Homo sapiens: one gene and its partners. The protein of the gene in region 4 interacts with the protein of the main gene of each other region in a pairwise test. Each region holds a gene or a part of one and is shown on either strand. Other genes may lie near its edges.

The links.
Region 1: the proteins of MYBL2 (region 4) and MAPK6 interact in a two-hybrid assay, tested with the Homo sapiens proteins (one large-scale study listed by BioGRID and IntAct).
Region 2: the proteins of MYBL2 (region 4) and LZTR1 interact in a two-hybrid assay, tested with the Homo sapiens proteins (one large-scale study listed by BioGRID and IntAct).
Region 3: the proteins of MYBL2 (region 4) and E2F3 interact in a two-hybrid assay, tested with the Homo sapiens proteins (one study listed by BioGRID).

The regions. Positions count from the first base shown.
Region 1 is NC_000015.10:52,019,476-52,028,127, forward strand, and holds part of MAPK6 (mitogen-activated protein kinase 6), read left to right. Parts: exon of another isoform or gene 1-2,089; intron 2,090-8,163; exon of another isoform or gene 8,164-8,398; intron 8,399-8,652. UniProt on the Homo sapiens protein: Atypical MAPK protein. Phosphorylates microtubule-associated protein 2 (MAP2) and MAPKAPK5.
Region 2 is NC_000022.11:20,995,797-21,001,395, reverse strand, and holds the end of LZTR1 (leucine-zipper-like transcriptional regulator 1), read right to left. Parts: coding exon 5,524-5,599; intron 5,434-5,523; coding exon 5,284-5,433; intron 4,701-5,283; coding exon 4,595-4,700; intron 4,511-4,594; coding exon 4,430-4,510; intron 4,165-4,429; coding exon 4,048-4,164; 3' UTR 2,364-4,047; downstream 1-2,363. Other genes in the region: THAP7 (THAP domain-containing protein 7), read left to right, coding at 1-140, 609-749, 964-1,516. UniProt on the Homo sapiens protein: Substrate-specific adapter of a BCR (BTB-CUL3-RBX1) E3 ubiquitin-protein ligase complex that mediates ubiquitination of Ras (K-Ras/KRAS, N-Ras/NRAS and H-Ras/HRAS).
Region 3 is NC_000006.12:20,472,595-20,481,246, reverse strand, and holds part of E2F3 (transcription factor E2F3), read right to left. Parts: intron 1,402-8,652; coding exon 1,290-1,401; intron 42-1,289; coding exon 1-41.
Region 4 is NC_000020.11:43,709,373-43,716,958, forward strand, and holds the end of MYBL2 (myb-related protein B), read left to right. Parts: intron 1-590; coding exon 591-690; intron 691-2,115; coding exon 2,116-2,229; intron 2,230-3,629; coding exon 3,630-3,734; intron 3,735-5,761; coding exon 5,762-5,911; intron 5,912-6,586; coding exon 6,587-6,715; 3' UTR 6,716-7,110; downstream 7,111-7,586. UniProt on the Homo sapiens protein: Transcription factor involved in the regulation of cell survival, proliferation, and differentiation. Transactivates the expression of the CLU gene.

The DNA of each region.
Region 1 (8,652 bases), on a different chromosome or scaffold from region 4:
GCCGGCTCCCTCCTCCATTGTGTGTGACCCTCCGGCGGCTGCCGCTCAACAAAGGCGTTTTTGTTCGGTCTGCCGCCCGCCCCCTGCTCGCCCGCCTGCCCGCCCGCTCGGGCCTGGCCGGCGCGTCCCCGCGCGGGCGGGCGGGCGGCGGGCTGGGGTCCCCGCGTGGGGCCGGCCAGGCGGCCAGCGCGCCCCTCCCACCCGGCACGCCCCTCGCCGGTCGCCCTGCCAGGCCGCGCCCGCTCCCTGGCCCCGCACGCCTGCTGCCGTCCCGCCGCCTGCGCCTGGCTCCGCGGGTTCGAAACCCAGCCGGACCGGACCGGAGGGCGGGCGAGCGAGGGGCGGCGGCCCGGGGAACATGAGGTGGCGTGGAGTCTCGCCTTACTGGCACGCTGCCTTTCGAAATGCTCCCGCGTCTCCTCCCCCATCCCACCCGGTGACTCGGCCTCAGCTGACTCCGGCCGGGCAAAGTCTCCAGTGGCGTAGCGCGCAGCGCTCACCCGGCTCGTCTCAGAGCCCTGAAGTCCGCCCAAGTTTTGAGTCTTGCCATGAATGAGGTACTGAAAACTCGGAGACGAAATTCCTAATTTCCTCCCTCGGCCCTACAGTCTTTCCTTAGCTTCTTTCGGGACCTTAAGTGGTGGTCTGTAAAAGTGCCCAAATGAAAGCTTGTTTTGTCGGTTCACCAAAAAGGGCCTTGTCACTTTGCTGTGCATTTTAGTCCGCCTTGTGAGTTGTGTCGAAAAGTAAAGGTGTTTTGGCATCCTTTTGTTTCTTGGCGAGTGTAGGACCCAACCGGTTTAGGTGTTAGGGGGATCTCTGTGCAGCGGGAGCTTCTTGATTCCTTTCCTGTTTTATTTTTTCTTTTGCTTGTTCATTGGAAAAGGTCCAGTGAAAGGGACTGGTGAGTTGGAATTAGAAGCCTACTTGTATTAACGGCAGAATTCGTGTTCATTGCTAAAGATGCAGTCTCAGTAATGACTTTTTTTTTTTTAACGGATACAGATGATTTGTCAAGGGGAAAAATTAACACGCCATACAATGAAGAGCAAGCAGCTTCAGAGTAATTTTCTGATGGCTGATTCTTCTAGCCTGTCTCTTACAGTTCCAATTGCACATGTCCTCCCTCTTTAACGCTGGAAAACTGAGATGGAAAGAATGATCTGACCAGAAGAATGTAGGGTCCAAACAGGGCCTGGCCCTGAAATCAGGAATTTCTTCATAGAAATATCAGATTTTAATGTTTAAAAAATAATTTTGAATTGGGTGAAAGGAACTTTGTCTTTAGATAGTAGTTGTTCAAACATGTTTATGAAGTGTTTGCTATGTGCCAGGGATTGTAAAGTCATTTCACATATGTTACATCATTTATTAAGAATTGCCTTAAGCTTGTAAAATTATTCATTGATGTCCTGAATTCAGTAATTGCAGTTAATCTAGAAAATATGCCAGATTTGAGCAGAACATATTTGATCACCTAGGTATTACTGTTGAGAAGAAAACACTGGAAAATGGAGACTATTTTAGAAAAAACTTCGTATATGAGGATATTCTGGAATTCATTTATTTGCAAAAGAGGATTAGAAGTAGTCGTTGGCTACTTTCTGTTATTAAAAAATCCAGAGAAGAGTGATTTGAAGTCAGTTAATTTTGTAATAAAAAAATGCACACATTCTAAAGACTAATGTTAGCACTAAAAGTGTTGCAGTGCTTTACATAAATTCATTTAAAGCATCGTGAGAATCATAACTGACAAAATAGTAAGGTTTGCTGACTCAGGGTACTTTGCTGAAGGGGATGGGGGTCGGGTAGGAGGAAGCTTACAAGTGCTGCTGCAAGTTTTGAGTTGGATGATGACTCATGCTGCCCACGGACTGCTACGTGGCTTTTTTTTTTTTTTTTTTTAAATACACTGTATTTTTTTCTAAATGATAGGCTAAAATGTTCCTGTCCACATTGAAATTCTCTCTCATTTTTTCTGAAGAGGAACAGCAGTTTCTCTAAAAAAGTAATGGCTTCTTAAATTGCATTTTAAAAGGATATCATATACCCTACAGGTGGAATTGTGTAACATTTGCTGAGAGGAAAGGTAAAACCAATTTCTGGTCAGGTGCTGAAATTAAATGTTTGATACTAGCAGTTTTTTGGCTACTGCTGAGAGAGATTTGTTACAGGTTGTTTATAAAGGACAGATAGTACTTTTATGGTGTCGGTAGAAATTGACCTTATGTTTTTATTGGTTATGTGAAAGTTATCTTTATATTTAATATTTAATCAGATATGGCTCTGAATATGAAAGTTTCACTCAGAATTATTAAAACATAATTATATATTGTGCTTTGTGATTTATGTGAATTTTCTGTTTTAATAAAGACAATTTGAAATAGGTATTAGTCACTATTTTTCATGGTTTTTTTTTAAAGATAAGCTGAATGTACAGTTCTAAGTTGAAACTTGGTAATAAGATAAATCTTTTGACTGATTTTAAAACAGCCAACGTTTAGCAAGGTGGCTTAAAATAAGATTGAGAGGGGGAAAAAGATTGAGAATGGCAGTTTAAGAGTGGGGCTGGGTGCGTTGGCTCACACCTGTAATCCCGGCACTTTGGGAGCCTGAGGTGGAAGGATCGCTTGAGGCCAGGAGTTCAAGACCAGTCTGGGCAACATAACGAGACCCTGTCTCAATTTTTAAAATAAAAGAAAAAAAATTTCCCACCCCATCCTCTGGTTTTTCTGTGTATACTGTTTATTTTTCCAAAGGGATTTGAGGAGTTTGTGGACAGTAAAGTGTTTGTTGTTTTTGTGAGACAGGGTCTTGCTCTGTCACCCTGGCTGGAGTGTAGTGGTGCGATCACTGTTCACTGCAACCTCTACTTCCCGGGCTCAGGTGATCTTCCTGCCTCAGCCTCCGGAGGAGCTGGGACTACAGCTGTGTGCGACCATGCCTGGCTAGTTTTTCGTATTTTTTGTAGAGATGAATGTTCACAGTGTTGCCCAGGCTGTTCTTGAACTCCTGGGCTCAAGCAATCTGCCTGCCTCAGCCTTCCAGAGTGTTGGGATTACAGGTGTGAGCCCCTGCTCCCAGCCCATAAAATGTATTGTTAATGTGAATTAAATTTTTGGAACTATTTTGGAAGAGTATTGCATGATTTATACCTAGAGGTTTTTTTTTTACAAAGTTTAATTCAAACTTAAAAAAAATTTCCTACTAGAGGAAACATAAAAATACAAATATAAAAGTATTGAAAATTTTCAGAGCATCACATTACTTAGAGGTTTAACGTATTTTCGGCATTGTTTTCAAATATAGGTAATTAGCTGTAGTGCATAATTCAGAGTTTAAAAACAAACTGAGGCCGGGGGCAGTGGCTAACGCTTGTAATCCCAGCACTTTGGGAGGCTGAGGAGGCAGATCACGAGGTCAGGAAATCGAGACCATCCTGGCCAACATGGTGAAACCCCGTCTCTAATAAAATACAAAAATTAGCTGGGTGTGGTGGCACGTGCCTGTAATCCCAGCTACTCAGGAGGCTGAGGCAGGAGAATCGCTTGAACCCGGGAGGCAGAGGTTGCAGTGAGCCGAGATTGTGCCAGTGCACTCCAGCCTGGGTGACAGAGCGAGACTCCGTCTCAAAAAAAAAAAAAAAAAAAAAACCGAAAAACAAACAAAATAACTGGATATCTTAGCCTGCTTCCTGTCTCCAAGGTACTGCTTTATGAAATGCTGAGCCTTCTTACCACTGCTATCCAGTTCTTTGTTACATTTGAACCTTGTGTTACTCTAGGTCCCCTGTTAAAATGGAAAGAAGATGCCTCAGAAGTAAATTCTGTGTGGCATTGTTGGCTGCCTTCATTAGTTCCTTCAGCCTGTTTTGTGGGCTGTTGAACATTACACTACAACCTGCCAGTGGTGTGGGAATTTTGCTCATTTTTATTGCTGAGAGCCTTGACTGAGACTTCACAAAAACAACTCCAATGTTACTGTAGTTAATGGCATTTTCCAGGGGTTGCTTTCATGTGAAGCTGATGCTTTTAAGGTGACAGTGATTTGGGCCTAGTCCAGCATTGATTGGTTTTTTCACCTCCATGAACTGCGTATTTGGAAAATAATGTGTGTCTCTCTAAGAGTTTTTTTGTTTGTTTGTTTTTTGTTTTTGAGACGCTGTCTCCCTCTGTTGCCAGGCTGGAGCGCAGTCGCGCCATCTCGGCTCACTGCAACCTCCACCTCCTAGGTTCAAGCGATTCTTCAGCTTCAGCCTCCCGAGTAGCTGGGACTACAGGTGCGCACCACCATGACCAGCTAATTTTTGTATTTTTTTTAGTACAGACAGGGTTTCATTATGTTGGCCAGGATGGTCTCATCTCCTGACCTTGTGATCCGCCTGCCTGGGCCTCCCAAAGTGCTGGGATTACGGGCATGAGCCACCGCGCCCAGCCAATAGAGTTCTAAAAGTTTTGTCTTTTATACATGTCAGTCTTCTAAGTCCATTTCTAAAAAATTGTTCAGAGATTGAATGTTTGTATAGCAAATACAATTTCCCATTGATTTTCGTTAAATTTGGTATTTTTTTCACAGAAAAAAATGGTATCATAAAACTTGTTTTTTAGAATCCTAGCATTTACCTCAGAAAAGTCTGCCTCTGCAGAAAGTGCAAATCTGTATGCATTTAATTCTGTACAATCATAAAACTTTAAAATATTAGTGTTTTGGAGGGGTCATGGGCATTATCTTGCTTCATTCATGTACATCGTTTGACAGCTAAGGAAACCAAGGCCTGAAGAGATCTAAGATCTTGGTACTGAAAGTGTGATTTCTGGACCAACAGTATTAGCATCACCTGGGAACTTGATAGACGTTAGAATCTTGACTTCATCTCAGTCCTACGGTCCTACTGAATTAGAATCTTAGAATCTACTTTTTCTTTTTCTTTTTTTTTTTTTTTGGAGACGGAGTCTCACTCTGTCACCCAGGCTAGAGTGCAGTGGCACGATCTTGGCTCACTGCAAGCTCCGCCTCCTGGGTTCACGCCATTCTCTTGCCTCAGCCTCCTGAGTAGCTGGGACTACAGCTGCTGCCACCGCGCCTGGCTAATTTTTTGTGTTTTTAGTAGAGACGGGGTTTCACCGTGTTAGCCAGGATGGTCTCGATTTCCTGACCTTGTGATCCGCCCGCCTCGGATCCGCCCGCCCGCCCAGCACTCCCAAAGTGCTGGGATTACAGGTATGAGCCACCGCGCCCGGCCTTCTTTTTTTGTAAATAAGAGGCACAATCTTGCCCTGTTGCCCAGTTTGGATTGGAGTGTAGTGGTGTGATCATAACGCACTGCCACCTGGAACTCCTGGACTCAAGTAATCCTCTCACCTCAGTAGCTGGGACTACAGGCATGTGCCATCATACACTGCCTTTTTTTTTTTTTTTTTTTTTTTTAAGAATTGGAGTCTCACTGTGTTGCCCATGCTCGTCTCAAACTCCTGGCCTCCTAACGTGCTGGGAAGAACCTGCATTTTAACAAGATTTTCAAGTCATTCAGTGCGCATTCAGTTTGAGAAGCACTGCTAAACGATGCATACACCTGGGCAACATAGTGAGACCCTGTCTCTACAAAATAAAATAAAATTAGCCTGTTGTAGTGGTGCACACCTTTAGTCCCAGCTACTTATGAGGCTGAGATGAGAGGATTGCTTGAGCCCAGGAGGTTGAGGCTGCAGTGAGCCGTGATCGCACCGCAGCGTTCCAGCCTGGGCAACAGCAAGAGACCCTGTCTCAAAAAATACGTAAATAAATAAAAATTAAAATGATGCATACATGGTTGCTCAGCTCGTTAGTCTTCTGAGTTGCTCTTTCCACTGGCCCTTCTGAAAAAAGTCAAATGGAAAATTTGGAAGCTAATCACTGCCCAGTTGAACTTTCTATGATGATAGAAGTGTTCTGTGCTATCCAGTGAGGTAGCCATTGGCCATGTGTGACTGTTGAATACTTGACGAGCAAGTAGTGCACTTGAGGAATTGAATTTTTTATTTAATTTTAATTCCTTTAAATAGTTGGGGCTGGGCGCCGTGGCTCACGCCTGTAATGCCAGCACTTTGGGAGGCTGAGGCGGGCGGATCACGAGGTCAGGAGATCGAGACCATCCTAGCTAACATGGTGAAACCCTGTCTCTACTAAAAATACAAAAAATTAGCCGGGTGGCGGGCGCCTGTAGTCCCAGCTGCTTGGGAGGCTGAGGCAGGAGAATGGCATGAACCCAGGAGGCGGAGCTTGCAGTGAGCGCCACTGCACTCCAGTCTGGGTGACAGAGCAAGACTACGTCTCAAAAAAAAATAAAAATAGTTGGATGTAGCTGGTGGTTACATGGACAGCACAGATCTAGATGATCTTTGCCCACTCTAAAATCTAAGCTGTAATTTAATAACTGGTTAGACTCAGTTTAATAATTGTCCTTTCTTAATGTACAAATTGGAGAGAGAGTATGTTGACTTAGTTTTTCTAATATGCCCAGATATTATTTCAGTATGTATTATAAAACAGTGCTGATTTTCTAATTGATACATCTGTGTTCAATAAAGTAGATAATCTAAGTTGTAAGCAAGTCAGTTTCTTTCCATCTTAACAGGTATTTTCACTTGAATTTTTAAAAAGTAGCTATTAAGTTTTCCTTAGTTATCCTGTGGAAAGCATTGGCAGGATAGTTTTTGCCTCTGGCCTAGTCCCTCTAGGCTTGTTGGCACTTGTTGATTACTTCCAGATTGATCTGCTGTTTATGTTAATTCCAGGTACCGAAACAGTGGTTCTTAACCTCCTACCTTTTTTTGTTTTGTTGTTGTCGTTGTTTTGAGACGGAGTTTTGCTCTTATTGTTCAGGTTGGAGTGCAATGGTGTGATCTTCGCTCACTGCAGCCTCCGCCTCCTGGGTTCAAGTGATTCTCCTGCTGCAGCCTCCCAAGTAGCTGGGATTACAGGCATGCACCACCACGCCCAGCTAATTTTATGTTTTTAGTAGAGATGGGGTTTCAACCATGTTGGCCAGGCTGGTCTTGAACTCCTGACCTCAAGTGATCCACCCGTCTCGGCCTCCCAAAGTGCAGGGATTACAGGCGTGAGCCACCGTGCCTGGCCTTAACCTCCCACCTTATGCAGTGGGAAGATTCTAACCCTATAGTCACAGGCCTATGTCCAAATCTTGGCATTTACTGTGTGTGTAAAGAGCATCAGTGCTCTTGTTTGTAAAATGACATTTACAAGACTGTAGTTTGAGATGAGAGAAATAATTTGTCATTTAGAAAATGCCTGTCATGGCTGGGCGCGATGGCTCATGCCTGTAATCTCAGCACTTTGGGAGGCCGAGGCAGGCGGATCACAAAGTCAGGAGTTCTAGACTAGCCTGGCCAACATGATGAAAACCCGTCTTTACTAAAATACAAAAAATTAGCTGAGTATGGTGGTGCATACCTGTACTCCCAGCTACTCTGAAGGCCCAGGCAGGAGAATCGCTTGAACCCAGGAGGCGGAGGTTGCAGTGAGCCGAGATCACACCATTGCACTCCAGCCTGGGCGACAGAGCAATACTCTGTCTTGAAAAAAGAAAATGCCTGTCACAGCCGGGCGCGGTGGCTAATGCCTGTAATCCCAGGACTTTGGGAGGCCGAGGCGGGCGGATCACAAGGTCAGGAGTTCAAGACCAGCCTGGCCAGCGTGGTGAAACCCCATCTCTACTAAAAATACGAAAAAACTGGCCATGGTAGCGTATGCCTGTAATCCCAGCTACTCGGGAGGCTGAGACAGAAAAATTGCTTGAACCCAGCAGGCGGAGCTTGCAGTGAGCCGAGATCGTGCCACTGTACTCCAGGCTGGGTGACAGAGCGAGACTCCCTCTCAAAAAAAAAAAAAAAAAAAGAAAATGCCTGTCACATAATAGGTCCTTAGTAGATGTAAGTTACCTACCCTCCCCCTCCTGCTTGGATTTTATAGCCCTCTGTAATTGAGTTTTATGCTTAAGATTCCAATCAGGCTTAATACATATTCTGAGTCTTCATCTCTACCCGTTACTGTAATTTCATGCCTTGCTTTGTTCATGTTGTATCCCATGTAGATTGTGCCATTTGTGCTCTGGATGTCTTCTCTTGACTTTTTTTTTAATCTTAATTTTTTTTTTTTTTTTTATAGGCGGGGTCTCCCTGTGTTGCCCAGGCTGGGCTCAAGCAATCATCCTGACTCGGCCTCAAAAAGTGCTGGGATTACAGGCATGAGCCACTCTGCTCAGCCTGTTGATTTCTCTTTATTTATTTATTTATTTATTTATTTATTTACTGTTTTTTGAGATGGAGTCTCACTCTGTTGGCCAGGTTGGAGTGCAGTGGCACGATCTTGGCTCACTGCAGCCTCTGCGTCCCAGATTCAGGTGATTCTTCTGCCTCAGCCTCTTGAGTAGTTGGGACTGCAGGTGCCCACCACCACGCCCGGCTAATTTTTGTATTTTTTTTTTTTTTTTTTTTTTTTGAGACGGAGTCTCGCTCTGTTGCCCAGGCGGAGTGCAGTGGTGCGATCTCAGCTCACTGCAAGCTCTGCCTCCCAGGTTCACGCCATTCTTCTGCCTCAGCTTTCCGAGTAGCTGGGACTACAGGCGCCTGCCACCACGCCCGGCTAATTTTTTGT
Region 2 (5,599 bases), on a different chromosome or scaffold from region 4:
AACCCGAGGCGAGGCTTGTGGCTGGCCAACTGCCAGCGGCTGGACCCCAGCGGCCAGGGCCTGTGGGACCCGGCATCCGAGTACATCTACTTCTGCTCCAAACACTTTGAGGAGGACTGCTTTGAGCTGGTGGGAATCAGGTGGGCCTCCCTGCCGGCCGACGCTGGGGTAGGATGTGGGGCTCCCGGCGGACTGGGACAGCTGCAGGTCATGGAAGTCCCTTGAGCAGCCTGCGTCCAAGGGGGCTGTTTCCTGTTCCCAGCTCTGCACAGTGAAACCCACCCCCAGGATCACTGTGCCTGTGACACAAGGGGAAAACAGGAGCCTTTCCAGAGAGTATCTTTCAGAGCCCCAGTCTTGCCAGCAAGTCCACAAATCAAAGAATTCTTTCTGGCTGGTCAGCCCAGCTCGGCTTATGCAGGCTTTCCACACACCTGGACTGTGAGGAGTCCTGCGGGGAAGCGATTGGTGTAGCTGTAACTTGGCGTTCCCCAGACGTATTGTTTGCACGATGCCTTCCAGCATCCCACGGCGCTGCTGCTGGGGGCAGATTGGCCTGGGGAGGCAGCACTTGCTCTCCAGCTCATCTGGGTTGCTTTTCCCCGCAGTGGATATCACAGGCTAAAGGAGGGGGCAGTCCCCACCATATTTGAGTCTTTCTCCAAGTTGCGCCGGACAACCAAGACCAAAGGACACAGTTACCCACCTGGCCCCGCTGAAGTCAGCCGGCTCAGACGATGCAGGAAGCGGTATGTGATATGGGTGGGGGATGCCCCACTCCCACCCCTAGGCTGAGGGACTGGGCCCTAGGGGTGTCTGCCAGCAGTCTCGCTGGACAGGGTTCTTGCTACACAGAACCTGTGGATCGGGTTTGGGTGTTAAGGGTGGATCAGGTGGGCTGGTGGAGGGGGGTCTGGCAAGCCCTCAGCCTAGCCCATCAGTCTCTCTCTTCCCCCTTACCAGCTGCTCCGAGGGCCGAGGGCCCACAACTCCATTTTCTCCACCTCCACCTGCTGATGTCACCTGCTTTCCTGTGGAAGAGGCCTCAGCACCTGCCACTTTGCCGGCCTCCCCAGCTGGGAGGCTGGAGCCTGGCCTTAGCAGCCCCTTTTCAGACCTACTGGGCCCCTTGGGTGCCCAGGCAGATGAAGCAGGCTGCAGCGCCCAGCCTTCACCAGAGCGGCAGCCCTCCCCTCTCGAACCACGGCCAGTCTCCCCCTCAGCGTATATGCTGCGCCTGCCCCCACCCGCCGGAGCCTACATCCAGAATGAACACAGCTACCAGGTGGGCAGCGCCTTACTCTGGAAGCGGCGAGCCGAGGCAGCCCTTGATGCCCTTGACAAGGCCCAGCGCCAGCTGCAGGCCTGCAAGCGGCGGGAGCAGCGGCTGCGGTTGAGACTGACCAAGCTGCAGCAGGAGCGGGCACGGGAGAAGCGGGCACAGGCAGATGCCCGCCAGACTCTGAAGGAGCATGTGCAGGACTTTGCCATGCAGCTGAGCAGCAGCATGGCCTGAGGGGCTGCTGGACTGACCGAGGGGCTGCCCAGCAAGACTGCAGCCTCTTCCTCCCTCAGATCCCACCAGACCCACCAGGTGCCATAATAAAGCGGATTCTAGACGGAGGGCCTGCTGTCTGGCTCAGCTGGGGGCTGGAGCCCCTCTGAGTACTAAGCTTGCTGCCCCAGACAGTGGCTGCAGCTCCTAGAGGGCTCAGTCCAAGCTCTTTGCCAAGGAGAACAGGGAGCCTGGCTCTCACCCCTCAGAGCTACTGGTAGACAGGTGGCAGTCAGCCCTGCTAGCGCAGCTCCGTGCCCCACAGGGTTCTCTGAAGGGGCAGGATGGTGTGAGTAGGGGCCAGGAAGACAGCTCCAGGCGCCCTTTCCATAGGATCTGAAACAGCCCTGACTTAAACCAGCCAGCCCCTTTGAGAACACTTCTAAAACCCAGTCTAGATCCGGTTCTCAAGCAGGAGCATGACAGGCTTCTGTCCACAGGCCCCATCAGCCTGGTGGGTAAGCTGGACAACCCTCTCCCCGCCCCCTTCACTACCATCTCTATTTGAAAAACGGGGATGATGATGACAATCATCAACCTCCTGGGTCATGTCAGCAGGTAGTAAAGCCCCAACAAGCTAGTCCCTGGAAATCTAGGAAGAGGTGGCCAGAACATGGAGACAAGCACTCAGGTCCTGGCCTCAGCATCCTTTTCCTTCAACTCCCAGGAACCTGGAAGGCCTTGCTGCAGCTGCAGTTCTCAAACAGCTCCGTCTTGGGGTGACTCACTGCAAGTATGGCCTCTCCCTGCCGAGGAGCACAAATGAAATTCATTCTAGTCCCAGAAACTGCCACACAATTTCGTAAAATTTGCTTTTTAGGGCCCTTGGCATGTAATTTCATTTATTCATATAAGTCTAGATCAGGGTTCAGTGACAAGGGTCAGCATAGAGCAGGGTTGCAGACTGGTTCAAGGAGGCTTCTGGGTAGGCCCCTCCAGGAGGGATTTGGAGGAGGCTGCCCTGTGGGTGTGGCAGGAGCCACATCTTGTGGAAACTGGGTAGATGGGTGTGTGGCCCCACTCTGAGTGAATGCACCTGGCCCACATGGCTGGGCGCTGCAGCCTGCACTCCACTTCCAGGTGCTGACATATCCTCCCCAGCCATGGTCCTGGGCCTGCTGTGTCCTCACCTCAAGGGCCTCCCGGCTCAGCCTCTGCCCCAGCTCCTGCTCTCTCCTCCCTTGTTCCCAGCTCATCTTGCACTAGGCCACTTCCTAGCCTGCAGGCTGCCTATGGATCTCCTGTTAGCTAAGCAACTTGCCACTCAGGGCCCCCCACACACCTGCATACACCCAAAGGAGAGCAGGTCACTTCCCCAAGGAGCTGTGGCTTCATGGCAGCCACAACAAGAAAGGGGTCCTGGAATCCTGTTCCCAGTAAGGGAGCGCTGGCTCCCAGCACTAGAGTGGATCCACATGGGGCCCTCACTAGGGCAAGAGGGCAGCCCTCCTTCCACAGGAGCCAAGAGCATAGTGCAGGGGCAAGGCAGGGCAGAAGGGGCAGGAGCCCACCCCAGGCCTCCAGGATTCCCCTGGAAGGGGCCAGCCTGGAGGCCTTCACAGCCCTTCCCAATGTGACTGGGTGACCCCAGGTGGAGGCAGGAGTTGACAGCATGGATAGAGACAGGTAAGGCCACTGACCTACATCTGGGGGTCTGCTAAGCCATGGGCTGCTCAAGGGGCTGAAGCCAGCAGTGGTGGCCGGGCCAGCAAGGTGTGTGTGGTGGGTAGCACTGCTGTGGCTTTAATGGAGGCTTGTCTGTGACAGAATACTCAGCAAGGGACACGGGGGACTTTGCTGGCTTCTTCCCGGCCGAGCCCTGACATGCACACAGGTGGACTGGGATCCTTCAGCCCCTGTGAAAACCAGGCCTGGCCCAGCACGACCGACCTGGGAGCTGACCTCAGGGCCCTTCACTCCAAAATTCACCTCAAGTCAGGTGAGACCCATACATCATGGGTCCCCACTCACAAGTTCCAGGTGGGAAGAGGAGCCCCTTACATGGATCTCAGTGAGGGTGGGTGGGACAGGAGCAGCCCAGGCAGATTCGCTGGTGCAGCGCAAGTCTGCTAAGCCTCCTCCCGCATGTTGGAGGAGCCTTGGTGACAGGCCCCAGTGCCTGAGTCCACAACACGCCCAGGCCACAGAAGCCAGGCCAAGCCCCACTGGGTGGGAGGCCCAAAGTCTCTCCCCACTTCTGGGTGGTGAGCCCATCACTGAGCCGTGGCCTCGCATCCACACTACACCAGGAGAGGGTGATGACAGGAGGGGGTCTGCTTCATCATCCGCTCCCTGTGGGACCTGTGTCTTCAGTGAATTAATGAGTTTGGGGCCCCACATCCCCTCAGCTCTCTTTGGAGGCTCTGGGCACCCTGACCCTTGGCCTGGCAGGTGCACCCACTGCCATAGGCATGCGCATAGCCGGTAGTCTTCTCAGTAGGCAGGGCAGGCAGGCACGGCGATTCTTCACAATGGGCAGGCGCCACAGGGCCTCAGATGTCGGCGCCCAGCTCTGCGCACTGCTTGTCTGAGATGTGGGAGGCCAGGGAGTCTATGATGTCCAGCAGCAGCTGCTGGCTCAGCGACCGCAGGGTGGGCAACTTGGAGACCTGTAAGGCAAGCAGGCCGGAAGGAGATGGGACCAGATCCACCTAAGGGCCATGGTGGGCAGTGGAGCCCTGTGGGGCCTACCCTGCTCAGGGCTCAGGCTGGTCCCAAGGATGAAGCAAGGTGCGGCCAGTGATGGGCTGCTCTGCTTCTCTCACCCCCAGGGCCCACCACTGCAGGGGACCACAGAGCCTGGGCACCCTCCCTGCCTGGGCATGGCCACTGCCAAGGGGAAGCGAGTCCTGAAGGGGAGGCCAGAGCCCTGACCTTGGTGAACTGGTGCACAATGATGTGCAGGCAGTGCCGCTTCATGTCCAGTGCCTGCGTTTTGTCAGCTGCCTCCAGGATCTGCAATGGCAGGGACCTTGAGGCGCTGCCCCTTTCACCCACTCAGTGGGAGCTGCAGCCATGTGCACGGGGCTGGGGGGCTACCTGCAGCACGTTCTGCACCGTCACGTTCATCTCCAGGTTCTGCTTGCAGTACGCCTGCAGCCGGTTGTTGTAGAAGCCGTAGTAGTAGGGGGCCGCAAACAAGTAGCTGGGGCCTGGTTAAGGAGCTGACTAAAGGAAGCTGGTCCGCCCGCACCCTCCCAGGGAAGGACAGGGAAGGGCGCAGCTGGAGCCCCAAGCCCCCACGCCAGCATGCTCTCCAAATGGATTCTGAACTACTTAGTGGGTCAAAGGCCCCATTCAGGATCCAAAGAAAACCATGAATCCCCTCCCGAGAAAAATAGTGTCTGTACATCTGTAGCGCTGTTCCATGGCCTTGCAGGCCTAACAGGCATCCTGACCCTCCATGTTCAGACCCCTACTGAAGTGACATAAGGAGTACCTCCATGTCTGTGCTCAACTGTCACACAAAGCAATGACCCACCCCGTCCTCTGGGCAGTTGTGAGGGTCAGGAACCCACTGGTTCCTCCTGGCTGCAAACCCCTCCTTGCCAGCTGCCAACTGCTTCAGAGAGCACCAGGCCCAGCCCCAGGCACCAGCAAACCCTCTGGAGGGAGGCGCTGGGCCCAGATCACCTAGCTGGGGCAGGAGAGCGGGCCTCAAAGCCACCTGAGGTGGGTGCCAGGACCCCTTGGTGGGGACCTGGGAGTTCACTGGGGAGTGAGGATGCAGCGAGTCCTCGGGCGGCATGTTGACCTCGCCGTAGTAGATGTAGCGCAGCATGGACTCGAAGGCCTGCCTGCTGGGCACCATCTCCCCGATGGAGATGTTCACCTGCCCATCTTCGGGCATGAAGGACCGGAACATGGCTTCAAAGTAGCTGCAGACAACGAGCGGTAGGCACCTGGCCGTCAGCAGAACGAAGACACCATCCAGGCCCACCCTCCCCTCCTGTCCAGCCCCCACCCACCTGGAGCGGGCGGCCAGGATAGCCTTGTGGGCTGGCCGTGGGTGCCCGTCAAGCAACAGAGTGATGTCACAGAATT
Region 3 (8,652 bases), on a different chromosome or scaffold from region 4:
AGACGTATCATACCGCGTTTTTTCTGAGGGAGATTTTGGAGCTTAAAGAAAAACAAAAACCGAGCGGGTGGGGGATAGGGGGAAAGGTAAAGAAATGAAGGGTGTCTTTGCAGTCAAGCAAGCTCTCTTTCCCACTGCAGCCAAAGTATTAGTATCTGAAGCAAGGCTGTCGTTGCTGTTGGTGTTGGCAAGTCATAGAAAGCTATGAAAGTTTTTTATTAGAGCAGGAAGGGAAGGTAAAAATTCCAGGGTTTGATTAAAGCATTTCACCTTGAATTTCTCAAGAGTTTCTACCTTGACTTACACCATTCCCTGGCTCCAATGAAGAATTTACATATAGCGGGCGCTAAAAAATATCTGTCAAATGAATGAAAGAGTGCTGTGGCCTCAGGGGACCAGCACACACGAGGCCTACGGTGATGGAGCCAGGCTATGAGTCTCACTAGCACTGCAGGACAAGGTCTTAAACAGACCCATCTCAAATGGCCTTTCAGGCTCTGGTATCTGTGTGTGCGTGTATCACCTGTTCACCAATTTTCCAAACAATGCTTCATTTTGATAAATAATTACCTGGAAAAGTCTTCTGCCAAATCTCCCCATCTCTCTTAAAGGAAATTTCCTTACTTAATATTGTACTTGTTCCCCCATAGGTGCACAGGTCAAGGTTTTAATTTAGTGTCACACAATTTGTGGATTGCCTAATGCATGAACTAAAGGAAGAGAGAGAACAAAGTCTAATTTAGCCCTTATGTTAAATGCAAACACATACATAATGGGACTAGTTGGCTATTTCTAACCTACGTTTCTCTCTCTCCCACAAGAAACGGTAATAGTATTTGATAGAAAGAGAAACAGCCTGCAATTTATCGGGCTCAATCAATTCTTACGCTATCATATGCTGAGCTGGAGATTGAGGTCGGCACAGACACTGGTGACTCTGGCATAGTTCGTGGACATCCAGTTTGCCTCAGACTCTGAAGCAATGTCCATTAAGGGAAGTTAAAATTAAATTTGATATAGAATGGTGCCAAAAGTTCGTATTCCGAGTTGAAAAATGAAACTACATACAGTTAAAAGAAGTCTTCCCTTATGGTACCAGTGTGACTCTGTAGCCTTTCACTGGTTGTCTGCTGACATTGTATTTATTTTTTTGGATAAGCACAGAAAGAAATGAAAAAGAACAAAACATGCCAGAATTATTCACACCTTGGCATCCTTCCGGCCATAAGCTTTGAAACTTGGAAATGCCATACCAAGGAGAATAAGGAAAGAGATGAAAAGATCCTTACTTTTTGGACTATCTGGACTTCGTAGTGCAGCTCTTCCTTTGCCCTTGGGGGTTTTTAAACCATCTGAGAGGTACTGATGACCGCTTTCTCCTAGCTCCAGCCTTCGCTTTGCCTGTAATAAGAAAGTGCGATCTCTCGTCACCGGTCATATGGACAAGAACAAGAAGGGAGGCAGTTTGTGGGCTGGCCTGCCAAATGCTGCAGGCTCATGCCAGCTCTCACCCCTCTGCTCCACCCCACTCAGCATCTTGTCATTCCCTAGAGCCAGGATTCTAGCGTTGTAGGCTGGGTTGTCATGCACACTCTCTTCACCTGCCGTGATCATCCGTCCACACCCAGATGGACAAACACAGCGATCCTTCAGCATTAGGTTCAGGAGTCACTTTGTTCATTGATTCAACACATCATGTGCCTGGCATGGGGTTGGATGCTAAGAATATCACAGGCGCCGTGGGGCTTAAATTCCCTTTCCACAGTGAGTCTTTCCTGCCCATCTCCCATTCTCCGACCTGGGTTGGACCCCCTTCCTTGTGCTCCCCAAACACTCTGTGTTTATTTGTATCATGACACTTATTCGGTATTACTGTAAGACTTATCTGTTTCTCATTTCCTTTAAGGCAGGGACTGTTTCCCATTTATCTTTGTATACCCAGTGCTTGGCACAGAGCCTGGGTTTCTGTAGATTTTCAATCACTCTCTCTATATACTGTATATTCAATGAGAGAAAGGGTGATTGGATCGTAACACAACTAGTCACAGACTACAAACGGCCCTTCATCGGGAAAACAAATACTGCAAACATGCAATCTTGGGCTTCAACCACTATTACTTTCTCCATTTTCTTATCAAGCCTAGCAAATGAGAAGCCCTTATCTAAGTTTTTAATTTAACTCCAATTAAATTTTAAAATATCCACATAGCGTCTTCTAGGTACCTAGGCATTGGGCTTAGTAAGCAAGATAGATAAGGGGCTTCGAGTCCAAGAGAAAAGATAGATGGTTAAGCAGTTGTTAAGTACTAATTGTATGGGTATGACAGGTGTTTTAGAAAATAAATGGCACCAACTGGACACTCAGCACAAAAATATGTATTTAGGCTCATTTTCAGGCAGATTCTTCTAATGAGGAGATTTGCAGTTTCTTTTTTTTAAGACAGAGTCTTGCTCTGTCGCCCAGGCTGGAGTGGAGTGGCGCGATCTTGGCTCACTGCAACCTCTGCCTCTGAGTTCAAGTGATTCTCCTGCCTCAGCCCTCCCCAAGTAGCTGGGACTGCAGGTGCACGCCACCACTCCCAGCTAATTTTTGTATTTTTAGTAGAGACGGGGTTTCGCCATGTTGGCCAGGCTGGTCTCGAAGTCCTGATCTTTGGTGATCTGCCCACCTTGGCCTCCCAAAGTGATGGGATTACAGGCGTGAGCCACTGTACCCAGCCGAGAGTTGCAATTTCAAAACAACTCCCCGTGATGTGAAAACGTAAGTAATAACTTATCAGCGGAAGCTAGATATTCAGCCCCTCTATGGAAAGTTACCAGCTAACCCTGCACCGTCTACTACGATAGCCACTGGTTACTAGCTCATCCAAACTGACATGTGCTATAATTGTAAAATACACACTGAATTTCGAAGACTTAGTACAAAACAGGGTAAAATATCTCAACAATTTTAGTAGTGATCACATGTTAAATGAAATAAATAAAATACAACTGACCCTTGAACAACATGGGTTTGGACTGTCCGTTTCCACTGATTTTATTTTTTTAGAGACAGGGTCTTGCTCTGCCGCCCAGGCTGGAGTGCAGTGGTGTGATCTCAGCTCACTGCAACCTTGTCCTCCCAGGCTCAAGGAATCCTCCCATCTCAGCCTCCTGAGTAGATGGGACCACAGGTGCACACCATGATGTCTGGCTAATTTAAATTTTTTTTTTTTTGGGTAGAGATGGGGCCTCTGTATGTTGCCCAGGCTGGTGTTGAACTCTTGGGCTCAAGTGATCCTCCTGCCTCATCCTCCCAAAGTGCTGGGATTACAGCCGTGAGCCACTGCACCCGGCCATGAGTGTGTCCACCTATATGTGGGTTTTCTTCTTCCTCTGTCATCCCTGAGACAGTAAGACCAACCCCTCCTCTTTTCTTTCACCACACCTTCCTCAATGTGAAGATAACGAGGATGAATTTTATGATGATCCACTTCCAGTAATGAATAGTAAATCTATTTTCTCTTCCTTATGATTTTTTTTTCATCCAGCTGCTTTATATGCCCATATGCCTTCTACACTTTGAACCCTGGACCAAGTTCAGCTGCTAGGAAACGCAAATTCCAGAGCATACCTAAGATGCATTGGATCAGAAACTCTGGGAATGGGGCTGAGCAATCTAACAGGCCTTCCAGGTGATTCTGATACACCTTAAAGTTGGAGAAACCTGGCTTTAGATCATAAGGGAAAAGAGTAAGACACTCAGGCAAAGCCCAGCTCTGCCCAGCACGGCCTATTTCACACACCCTCACCTCTAGTCCTGCTTGGCTGATGAGGGAAATCTATCCTGTGGATTCCACTTTCATTCATTCCAAACTTTCTTTTATTGATAACATTTCCTCTCTAACTTCATTGTAAGAATACAGTATATAATACATATACCATATGAAATGTGTTAATGACTGTTTATGTTATTGGTAAGGCTTCTAGTCAACAGTAGGCTATTAGGGCTGGGTGCATGGATCACACCTGTAATCCCAGCTACTCAGGAGGATGACTTGAGGCCAAGAGTTCAAGACCAGCCTGATCAACGTAGCAAGACCCCCCATCACTAAAATAATAATGAAAACCCCAAACAACAGGCTATTAGTTAAGTTTAGGGGAGTCAAAAGATCTATCTAAATTTTTGACTGTGTCAGGGCACCTCTAACCCCAATGTTGTTAATGGGTCAGATGTAGCATTAAAATTATTTCATCTGTTTCTTTATATATATATTTTACGATGTGGCTTGCCTCAGTGGCACACCTTATCTTTCTACTGCAGTGCTAAGTTAAACATCATTCTAATGGCTCCGGAAGGACAATCTGCTTGCTGGACTTCATCTTCCCCTCCCAGCCATTCTGTCAAGTCCTTGTGTGGGCCTGCTGTGGTTGGTCCAGCAAACATTCACTCTTTATCAGGCAGAAGCTCCCTGTTTGTTCCTTGGGGAGCCATCCCTTTCCTGGTCTAAGCGCATCTGTGCACACAGGTGATCCAGGCCTGGCTAATCATTGTGGCCCATCCTGCCCTCCCCGCCCCCACCGCGAACAGGTTGAATGGCTTATGACCAAGGCTGGAGGAGCAAAGGCTAACCCCAGGAATGTTTCTGGAACTATCTGGCAAGAAGCAGGTATGTCTTTCCAGTAAGGTTGGTAAGTGAGGAGCCTAAAGCTGCCTGAGAATGGGGCCTTCCCAGGGGAAAGCAGAGTGGAGAGAAGGAGAGAGAGGGGTCTGAGACCACCACTCAAAACTCTGGCTCTGGTCATGCCCTGGGGGCAACTGTTGGTCTTTCCCAGACTTTCCAGTTACATTAGCCAATAAACTCTCCTTTTTGCTTAAAGCATTTTTTTTTTTTGAGACCCGGAGTCTCGCTCTGTCACCCAGGCTGGAGTGCAGTGGTGCAATTTCAACTTATTGCAAGCTCCGCCTCCCGGGTTCATGCCATTCTCCTGCCTCAGCCTCTCGAGTAGCTGGGACTACAGGCGTCCGCCACCACGCCCGGCTAATTTTTTGTAGTTTTAGTAGAGACGGGGTTTCACCATGTTAGCCAGGATCTTCTTGATCTCCTGACCTCGTGATCCGCCTTCCTCGGCCTCCTCAAGTGCTGGGATTACAGGCGTGAGCCACCGTGCCCAGCTGCTTCAAGTGTTTTGAGTCGGGAACCTAGAATTGTGCTGTTGCCAGTGACAGCTTATGGAACTGGCTGAGTCAAGATGGCTATGGTGTGACAGGGAGTTGGCAGGCCTTGTTAGAGAGTGGCAGAGTGTGTTGGTCACTTCTTGTGACCGCCAGGAAGATACTACAGATAGAGAGAAACTTCATCTGAGGCTGGCCCGCCTCAAAGAAAACAGCTTTGCTATGGAGGCCTTCTCTACAGAAAGCAATCTAAGGAGACATAGAGCTGTATTCTCTGCCCAAATTAAAGTCAACAAATGGGCTGGGCACAATGGCTCACGCCTGTAATCCCAGCACTTTGAGAGGCCGAGGTAGGCAGATCACCTGAGGTCAGGAGTTTGAGACCAGCCTGGTGAAACCCTAACTCTACTAAAAATACAAAAAGTAGCCCAGCATGGTAGCATGCACCTGTAGTTCCAGTTACTTGGGAGGCTGGGGCATGAGAATTGCTTGAACCTGGGAGGTGGAGGTTGGTGCCTCCGCAATCCAGCCTGGATGACAGAGAAAGACTCTTGTCTCAAAAAATGAAAATAAAGTGAACAGAAAGAAGGCAAACTTGGAAAAGAGTCTGGGACCCAGAACTCCTAGGGACCTAGGGCCGTGCCTCAGCAGTAAAGAACCACCCACTGGTCAGCAGGCTGGGGGCATACTAGTTTTATCTCTCCCTCCCAGGCTGCTGTTTCAGACTGCCATGAGGCAAAGGCCTATGGAACCATTAAACTGTAGGTTAGGGAAATTTCCATGTCTGCTGCTAAGTGACTGAGACTTAACTTCGAAAGACCGGGACTAGTCTTCATGTGTAACTCTCGTTACTAAGCACCAAACCATAAATTGACCAAATTTGAATGCTAGATGGACAAGCTACTAAAATTGCAAGGCACTTTTATTGCGAAAGAATCACTAAGTCTAGAAAGTGAAGGTCCATGATGTTGAACCTCTAAGGAAATCAATCACTAGGTCCAAAAGCCACGCCAGAAATAAGTGAGGTGTGAAGAAGGGGCAGCCCCAGAATTCCTCCCAGGAGGTGGAACTTGGGGTGGACTTATAGGCTCTACAAACTGCTGTCCCTGTGGAGGACATGACAAGAAGCAGGAGGTGAGCACTTTATGTCATTTCCCCTTTTCAGAAGGGAGGTTCCCGTTGGGTTATCCTGTTATTTTTCCTCCCCTGTTGAGTGAACAGGGAGGGCGGAACTGGATTTGTGGGGACCACATATTACCTGTTTGGTCTCAGATCTGAACATGGGTGCAATAATTAGAATCTCTTGAAAAAGGGCTAAGAATTTTGATATTTGATGGAGCAGCATTATTTTAATGCTTAACTTAGCAAATTCAAGCACACATGCCTGGTAAAACAAAAAACTATATGACAGGATTTAAATAGTGCGGGTGAGCTCTGTCTACACCACCCTGCCCTGGGCTGAGCACCAGGGTAGATGGAAATCTCTTCTCTTGGTCATCTCAATTTTTGTTAGTTCACAGCGTGAGCATCGTACTGATTGGAGAGGTATTCATTGTTTATGCACAGATCTTTACATTACATGGCCCCTACCAGTAAAACAGCCAACTTATCCAGTAATCAACAGAAGGATGGGCCATTTGGTTCCAAGCAGTGGTAAAGCCTGGCTCTGTGAGATTCTGTGTGGAACTCCATGTGGCACCTTCCGGCAGTACTTTCAAGGGTAACTTGTACTATAAACAAGGTATGTGCTAACGTTAAAACCTCAGCCCCATGGACGTTAACATGCCTCTGCAAAGAAACAGTTGTACTGGTAAGCAGTTCTGAAAATCTATGTAGGAAAATGTATGTAGTTAGAGCTGGGTGCAATGGTAATGCGCCTGTAGTCCCAGGTACTTGGGAGACTGAGGCAAGAGGATCACTTGGGCCCAGGAGTTTGAGACCAACCTGGGCAGCACAGCAAGTCTCCCATCTCTCTCTCTCAAAACGAAAAAAAACCACAAAACCCCAAAAGAATTACCACTGGAGCCAGTGGGGAACATCTATAGTCTGCCTGCCTGATATTTGTTGCCCCTATTTTTTTTCCACTGGGGAAGGAGCTCTACTGATGTTCTTAGTTTCTATTAGTCTCCAAGCATGAAAAGACAAGACTTGAGACTGATCAACATTAGGACGACTCTTCCCATCAAAGTTGCAGAGGTGAGTACTGAATCCTGGCCTCAATCCCAAGGCTCAAGTGTCTGGGGTAAAGATGAGACCATGACCAATGCAGGAAGGGTCAGTCAATCCTGGGATTTTTCTTGGGAACCACTGGGAAAGTACTGGGTTCTTTTCACTGGGCATTATTAGGCCAGTAGGGTGCGAGCCTGGAGCTACTTGGGAAGTGAGCCAACACAGAAGAGCTGGGGAAAGGCTGAGTCCCAATCCCTTCAAGGGAGGTGCTAGATACAGCCATACCCAAAGGCACACATGCCACAGACTTTCATTTGTGTGAGCCCACAAATATCCCTTTTTGGTATAAGGCAGCTGAATTAGATTATTATTAATACCACTGATAGATACAGACCTTTAGTATTAATTATTACACAACAAATATTTGAGTGCTTATAATATGCTACGCACCATGTTAACTGTTTTCCACTCAATTTTGTTATCTTATTTTCACAACACCCTTAATAAGGTGGCTATTATTAATTCTTATTTTATAGAAGAAAAGGGAGGTCTAGTGTGATTAACTGACTTTTCCAAGATTCTATAGCCAGTAAGCACACCTACAAGTCCATGCTTATAACTACTTCATGAAAAGATTGTGAAAAGTCCCATGTAAAAATATTTGAATAGCTAGATTAAGTTGATATTGCCTTAATGACACACTTTATTTTATTCCTGATTTAAAAACTCTTCTTTACATATAATAAATGTATATGGTAATTTAAGCAGCATAAATGAGTATAAATGGAAAGCAAACTTTCTCCCTACTCCTGATCCCAGTTCCCTTCCTCAAAGGCAAGCACTATGAAGTTACTTGGATATCCTTTCAGATAGCTATATACATACTTGTATTTACCTAGACTATCTACCATCCCATCTTTAAAAAGTTTTTCCCATAAATCGTAGCAAAACACACACTTTTCTATTAATAACATATGTCCGAGTTAGACCTTATCAGAACACATGGAATGATCTCATTTCTCATAGCTGCATAATATTGTATTAATTAATATGCCACGATTTATTTACTTAAGCAGACATATACTAATGGACATTCAATACTCCTCTCCTATAATCATTTTTCCAATGAATAATCATGCTGGCATTGTGGGGTAGGTATTATTACACCCAGCTTGCACTGAGACAGAAGTTAAGGATTTACCCGAGGTCTCAGTTAACAAGGGACAGATACTAGAATTCTTATTTTTTATTTTTTTAGAGACAGGGTCTAGCTTTGTTACCCAAGCTGGAGGGCGGTGGTGTGATCATGGTTCACTGAAGCCTCAAAC
Region 4 (7,586 bases):
CTAGGGCAGGTGGAAATCACCCATGGTGGGTCTACATCTGATAGAAGCATCTTATAGTTCTGCTTCTGGACCAGACCATCCTGGGTTTTTCTCTGTTCTGCTGAAGGGTTCCCTCCACGTGTCCATCACCTCGGTGAACTCTTGGGAGACCTGGGAAGATGCTGGCCTCACCTCTCGCCCCTCCTTTCCCTCATTGTGCTGCCACCATCCTTCTCACACAGGCTCTCCAGGGAGAGCTGGGCAGGATGGGATCTTCCTGGGTTCCCACCTTGCTCCGTGCCCCCTCTCACTGTTCCTGAAGTGTGGCCACGGACTGCCTTGTTTTCTGGAAAGTCCCAAGTCTGGACCATGACTGAGCAGCATTCTCGGCTATCTGCCACCTGTCTGGGGCTCCTGGCCCCTCTTAGACTCCCCTCTCCCTTCTGTTTCCCCCGAGCCCCTGACTTGGACCTGCAGGGTGGGGAGAGGGATGGGACGAGAACCTGTGCTGGGGCCAAAGGTCGCACTGGGGGAAGGTGGAGCCAGGGCAGCAGAGTGCCTGGCGTCGGCCCCTATCCTGTCACTAGTTCCCCCGTTCTGGCCCCTGGCAGGTTTGTAACCCCAGATCAGAAGTACTCCATGGACAACACTCCCCACACGCCAACCCCGTTCAAGAACGCCCTGGAGAAGTACGGACCCCTGAAGCCCCTGGTACGTGGTGTGGTCGCTGCCGTGGATCTCTGCACAGTGGGATCCCTTCGGTTCATCCAACCATGTTCAGTCCACAGGACCCTTCCCTCTGAGGTCTCATTTGATTCTTTCTCCTGAGAAGATGCAGAGATCCTGATAATATAAATGGGGAAGCTGAGGCTGCTCTTTGTCACTTCCTCCGACTGCTCCTGAGCACCTGAGTTTGCAAGCACGCGCCGGCTGGTGCTAGAGACATGGTGGTATCCCGTGACACTCAGCCTCAGGATGGGGGAGACTGATGTGAAATACAAATAACTTAAACACTTTCAGGCAAAGATAAGCACTGGGCCTAGTTCAGAGAAGTGGCAAATTGCTACTCTGGCCTGTCTCTGACCAACTCCCAGTTCTCTACAGAGCACGGGAAAGCCCCTCGGGGACGTCTTTCCTGCAGTGTGCAGGCTGCCCTTCTCCCCTGCTCTTCCCAGTTGATGGGATGGTTGTGTTTTCTCTATGAAAAAAGGAGTTGGCACCTTGGGCTTTCTGAAACACACAGGTGTTTTAGAAATCAGTGGAGGGTGAGAGAAAGGCATGGTTGTGGAGGCACTGGACTGTGAACAAGGTCTGCAGCGGGTCCCCCTGCTGTCTCTCTCCACTGCATGGAGCCTCCTATGAAGCCCAAGGTGGCTGGGGGCTGAGGCTCCCTTGGGCCTGCCATGGAACTGATTCTGAGTCAAGCAGACTTTCCACGGACCATGCTACATGAGCCGAGGTGAGGCACTAGTTAGTGCTCCTTTCCTGTTGCAGTGGAGATTTGGCTCCTCTGTACTAAAATATCTGCATGCTCTCCAAACAGGTGTGAGGGCAAATCACATGACCTTGGCAGCTGTAATTAAAGTTTGTGGGGGCTTTTCGGATGACTTATGAGGAGTGGCTGTGATTCGCACCTTTCACTCTTAGTAGCACTCGCCCTCCCCTGTTCTCTGTTGCCTGAAGCTGGAGAGGTCCTTGGAACCCCGAGGCCTGAGAAAGGGAAATGGGTTTGAGAGCCCCCATTAGTGTGGAACAAAGGGTTGAGTGAGCCTGGGCTTTGAGCTGTCGGGGTCCTAATTCAGCAGCTGTGTGACTGTGTGCCAGGCTGTTGATCTCTGAGCTTCTGTTTCTACCTGCTTAAAATGACGGTTACTGCACAGGGCTGTGTGAGGGTTACAGTGCGTCTCTGGGCTGCTCCCAGCCATGGCAGGCCCCTGGGAATCAAGGTCATCAGCTGCTTGTCCAAGGCAGCAGTTAGTGGTTGTGAATGGTGCGTGTGAGATCTGCATCCTGGCGTCAGGCCTCCTTCCTGCCTTACCCAGGACAGCCCAGTTGCAGCTGGGTTGGTCCCACAGTCCCACACACACACAGCCCGAGTGTGGTGCCTCACGTGGGCTGCCCCGTGCCTACCCACAGCCACAGACCCCGCACCTGGAGGAGGACTTGAAGGAGGTGCTGCGTTCTGAGGCTGGCATCGAACTCATCATCGAGGACGACATCAGGCCCGAGAAGCAGAAGAGGAAGCCTGGGGTGAGTAGGGTAGGGGTGGGAGAGCCTGGGCAGGGGGAATTGGAGCCGTGGCATGGGGGAGGCGTCTGGGGACAGGTTGTAGAAAGTGAGGCGCTGGGGAGAATGGGGGCGTAGCATATCCCCTTTGCCCCCTTTCGCACGGTGGTTGTTGAGGAAACTGACAAGATAAGGACAGTGTCTCTGGGACCCTCCTCTGCTCTGCTTTGAAGGATTCACTTACTTATCCAGCATTGTGTTCGGACCCTGCTCAAGTTGGGCTGGGCTGGATGTGGTGGATGGAGCAGCAATTACGACCCAGACTGGATCTCCCCTTAGTGTTCAGGGGGCAGAGACAGATGCTAGACAGACACACCATGACTGAATTCACAGGGTACCAAGGGCCGCAGAAAGGGAGGTTCCAAAGGAATCTTTTGGGTGGAGGCGAGGCGGTCGGGATGAGCCAGCCAGGCCAGGCAGTGCCTGGCTGAGTGTCAAGCTGCATGAGCTGGGGGTGGGGGAGTGGGTTCAGGTGAGGTGGAGTCTGCAGGGGCTCCTGGGCAGGGGGGCAGGGAAGGGACTGTCCCAAGCCTCCGTTCTATGCCAGCCTCCCTCCCACTGCGTCGTTAGCTTTCATGACAGTGCGCGATCCCTTCGAGTCTCCTAGTGCTCCTTTTTCCCAGACTGCTCTCCTCAAGGGAGAGCTGGGAACGGTGGGATGTACAGGGTGTTAGGTAAGGAGGGGAGGTGGGCGGTCAGCCTGGGCGGGACTTGCCCGAGCTGGCACCCCATGTGCACGTGGAGAGAACTTGGCCTCTGGCCTCCAGGGTCCTCCCTGGCCTCTCCTTGGTGGGGATGGTTGTGAGCCATGGCAGCCCCTGCTGAGTGCACTGTTGGGTAGAGTGGGGATGTGACTCTCAGAGCCGCTCCCTGGTATCGGAGCAGGCCCTGGACCTGCTTCTGTGAGGTGCACGGTTAGGAATGGGGCGTTCCTTGATTGTATTAGGCATTGTAGAGGGGCTTGTCCTGAGGGGTTTGTGTTCCCATATTACTGGCCTGTGGGTGCTATTTTAGGTGTTACTGGGGTGATTCTCTGCTGGGCCTGTTTGAGGGGCTGTGTCTGGTCCATTCGGGGTGAGAACAGGTCACTTCGTGGTGGAGGTTCATGCTGTGTTCCTGCTCACTGTCGCAGCACCTGGCAGGATAGGGTCTACCTTGGGTACAGAGTCTAATGGGGCCATGGGGCCTAACTTTCCCAGCCACCCCATTCTTCTGACAGCAGATTCCCACTAGCTGGGCCTTGCTCCAAGTCTGCACTGCAGCAGGGCCTGGTTTTGTGACCATCCATGGCCATGACCATCCAGGTGCTGACCATGGGGAATCCAGACACTCACCCTAACCCCCTTCTATCTGCCAACCCCTAGCTGCGGCGGAGCCCCATCAAGAAAGTCCGGAAGTCTCTGGCTCTTGACATTGTGGATGAGGATGTGAAGCTGATGATGTCCACACTGCCCAAGTCTCTATCCTTGGTAAGGCTTCTGCTCCTTGGAACTGTTGAGTTTTGGAGAGGACCCTCAAGGTGGAGTTAGTGTAGTGACTCTCCAACTGGGCTTCTGGAACCCTGGGCTCTGCAGGGAGGGGCTATCAGGGAGGGTGGGTCCGGGCACCCACTCATGGCTTCAGTCAGCAGCTCTGCTTGTCTCTCACAGAAGGTTTTGTTTGGCAGAGTTGCGCGGCTAGGACATGTTTTAAAAACATGCATCTGGGTCTCCTGCGCTCTCCCAGAGAGGGTCAGTGATGTGTCTTTTTTTTTCTTTTTTTTTTTTTGAATTGGAATTTCGCTCTTGTTGCCCAGGCTGGAGTGCAATGGTGCCATCTCGGCTCACTGCAACCTCCGTCTCCCGAGTTCAAGTTGTTCTCCTGCCTCAGCCTCCCAAGTAGCTGGGATTACAGGCATGCATCACCACGCCCGGCTAATTTTGTATCTTTAGTAGAGACGGGGTTTCTCCATGTTGGTCAGGCTGGTCTCGAACTCCCCACCTCAGGTGATCTGCCTGCCTCGGCCTCCCAGAGTGCTGGGATTACAGGCGTGAGTCACCGTGCCCAGCCTAGTAATGTGTCTTAAGGTATAGCCAGGCACTTGGGCACATTAGTCCTGGGATGGGTGCTATACAGCCCCCAGGCCAGTGGACTTGCTGTGCCGGGTGCTACAGTGAGGTCGACCTCAGAAAGGGGGTTGTTGCCTGTGCAGAGCCTGGGTCCCCAGAAGCCAGGGTGTGCTGCTGATCCCTCTCTGCTCACAATGGGGTGAGTTGGCTTGCCCTGGCTCAGAGTGGGGAGGCGGTGAGAGGCATGGCGGCGTCATGAACAAAGGTTAAGGGTTGCCTGATCTTCCAAGTAGACTGCTGCCCTCACGGTCCTTGCAGAGAAACCTTGTCCTGGCTAGGGGTCTCTGACAGGCTGGGGACCTGCAGCCAGGTTACTGCAAAGAAAAAAACATCACCGCAGGGAGTGAAGAGCACAGATTGAGTCAGGTGGGCCTGGGTTTGAGTTATGACACCATCACTGCTCTCTGGGATCTTTCAGGTTCCCTGAGCCCCAGTTAAAAGCCTATAAAAGGGGTGCCAAGCCTAAGTCAGGAGGGCACAGTGCCAAGCAGAGCAGAGAGACTGGAAGGGCGTGGGAGGGGCTTTGTGCAACTCCGCTGTGCTTGGGGTTGAAGCTGCGTCTTTATGATGCTTGTGGATGTTTCTGGTCCCAGGAAAACTAGGAACAGCCTTGGCTCCTCCTGAGGCTTTATGTGACAAAGCCAACGTTATTGAGTATGTTATTACTGGATAATGCTCAGTGATACTCCACATTTATTGATTATGTTATTATGGCCTGGGGGCTGCACGGCACCCATCCCAGGGCTGATGTGCCCCCACGTACTTGACTGTGCCTCCAGACACACCACTGAATCAGGCTCTGAAACGCACACACGTTTCTTTACTTGATTACTTGATTTTTTTTTTTTAAGTAAGAAAGTTCTTTAGAACAAGATTAAGTTCTTTGCTTAATTTTTTTTTGAGACGGAGTCTGGCTCTGTCTCCCAGGCTGGAATGCAGTGGTGCAATCTCGGCTCACTGCAAGCTCCACCTCCTCCCAGGTTCGCACCATTCTTCTGCCTCAGCCTCCCAAGTAGCTGGGACAACAGGCGCCCACCACCACACCCAGCTAATTTTTGTGTTTTTAGTAGAGACGGGGTTTCACCCTGTTGACCAGGATGGTCTCGATCTCTTGACCTCGTGATCCGCCTGCCTCGGCCTCCCAAAGTGCTGGGATTACAGGCGTGAGCCACCGCTCCTGGCCCTTTGCTTAATCTTTTAAGTATAAAGTAAGCTTAAGCTCATGTAAACTCCCTATCTGAAAGCAGAAACTGAGGCTTGGAAAAGTGTGTATCCTCTTTCAGGTCTCAGCAGCCAGGTGGTGGTGCTGGGGTGGGATTGCGGGTTTTTTTCTTCCCTCTCACAGCTTCTCGCAAAATGGTGACTCCTTGACTTGGTTTTGGTTTCAGCCGACAACTGCCCCTTCAAACTCTTCCAGCCTCACCCTGTCAGGTATCAAAGAAGACAACAGCTTGCTCAACCAGGGCTTCTTGCAGGCCAAGCCCGAGAAGGCAGCAGTGGCCCAGAAGCCCCGAAGCCACTTCACGACACCTGCCCCTGTGAGTGCTGTGGCCATCTCTGGGGGTCCTGCAGTGCCCGCCTTCTTAGCTCAGGGCTGAGTGCTGGCCATCCCTGGGGGTCCTGCAGTGCCCGCCTTCTTAGCTCAGGGCCTTTGCATAGGCTGTTCCTCTGCCTGGGTGCTTTTCCTGCTACTTCCCGTGGCTGCATTTGCTTAACTTACTCTTCTGATTTCAGTCTCAATGCTGCTTCCTTAGGGGTAAGCCTTCTCTGACCCTACATTCTGTAGAGATACCCCCATTCTGCCATTCTCTCTTTTGTGGCCTGGGTTTCACTTGTAACTAAGTCATTATCCCTGTATTTGGTTTGCTTAGTACATGTCTGTCCTCAAGCAGGGGCTGGCTTCAGGCTGCTGACCCGTCTCACTGCTCCTTCTCACCCGCCTCCTGGCTGTGGCTTCTCCTCGAGGCTGGTGCTGCACGGGGCGGGCAGTGCATGGCCATGTCTCCTTGTCCAGCGTCCTACTTACAGTTGAGGAAGCCCACAGCCAGGAAGTGACTTGTCCAGGGTCACAGGGAATGTGGAGAGAGAATAAGAAGGCTCTGGCTTCTAGGGGAGGGAGGCTTATAACTCTACCCTTCCCTGGCCAGGATCACCAGGGTCTGTTGGGAACACATAGTCCCTGCCTGGATGGTAACCCTCTTGCCTCCTCCCAGATGTCCAGTGCCTGGAAGACGGTGGCCTGCGGGGGGACCAGGGACCAGCTTTTCATGCAGGAGAAAGCCCGGCAGCTCCTGGGCCGCCTGAAGCCCAGCCACACATCTCGGACCCTCATCTTGTCCTGAGGTGTTGAGGGTGTCACGAGCCCATTCTCATGTTTACAGGGGTTGTGGGGGCAGAGGGGGTCTGTGAATCTGAGAGTCATTCAGGTGACCTCCTGCAGGGAGCCTTCTGCCACCAGCCCCTCCCCAGACTCTCAGGTGGAGGCAACAGGGCCATGTGCTGCCCTGTTGCCGAGCCCAGCTGTGGGCGGCTCCTGGTGCTAACAACAAAGTTCCACTTCCAGGTCTGCCTGGTTCCCTCCCCAAGGCCACAGGGAGCTCCGTCAGCTTCTCCCAAGCCCACGTCAGGCCTGGCCTCATCTCAGACCCTGCTTAGGATGGGGGATGTGGCCAGGGGTGCTCCTGTGCTCACCCTCTCTTGGTGCATTTTTTTGGAAGAATAAAATTGCCTCTCTCTTTGTGCTGGTCTGGACTCTGCCTCTCTACTGGGCCCTGCTCATGGTTCCCTGGTGACCTAGGGGCCTCTTCTGGGATATAGGGACCTGAATGCTCATCCTCAGAGGCCAGCCTTATCGGCACAGCCCAGGCCTGAGCCCTTGACCCTGTTTCCACAGAGGGGCACAATGAGATGAGAGCAATTTCTCTCGTCTCTGCACCCAGTGGGCATCTCTGCAAAGCTCTGAGTATTAATAGCCATGGGGTTGGGCGGGGGTGGGCAGAGACTGGGGGCGGAGGAGGACGATGGGTTGGTGCAGTAGGGCCTTGCCTGGCCCTTGCCTTGGGTGGCTCACCTGCCCATTAACAAGCCCCTGCCTCAAGCTGAGCGTGGCCCCCAGGTCAGACCAGTAAGCAAGGAAGAGGGGTGAAGGCAGCTGGGCAGAACCCTCTAGCCCCATTGGCCAAGGCTGAGCAGGAGGCCAGGATGGGCCAGAGC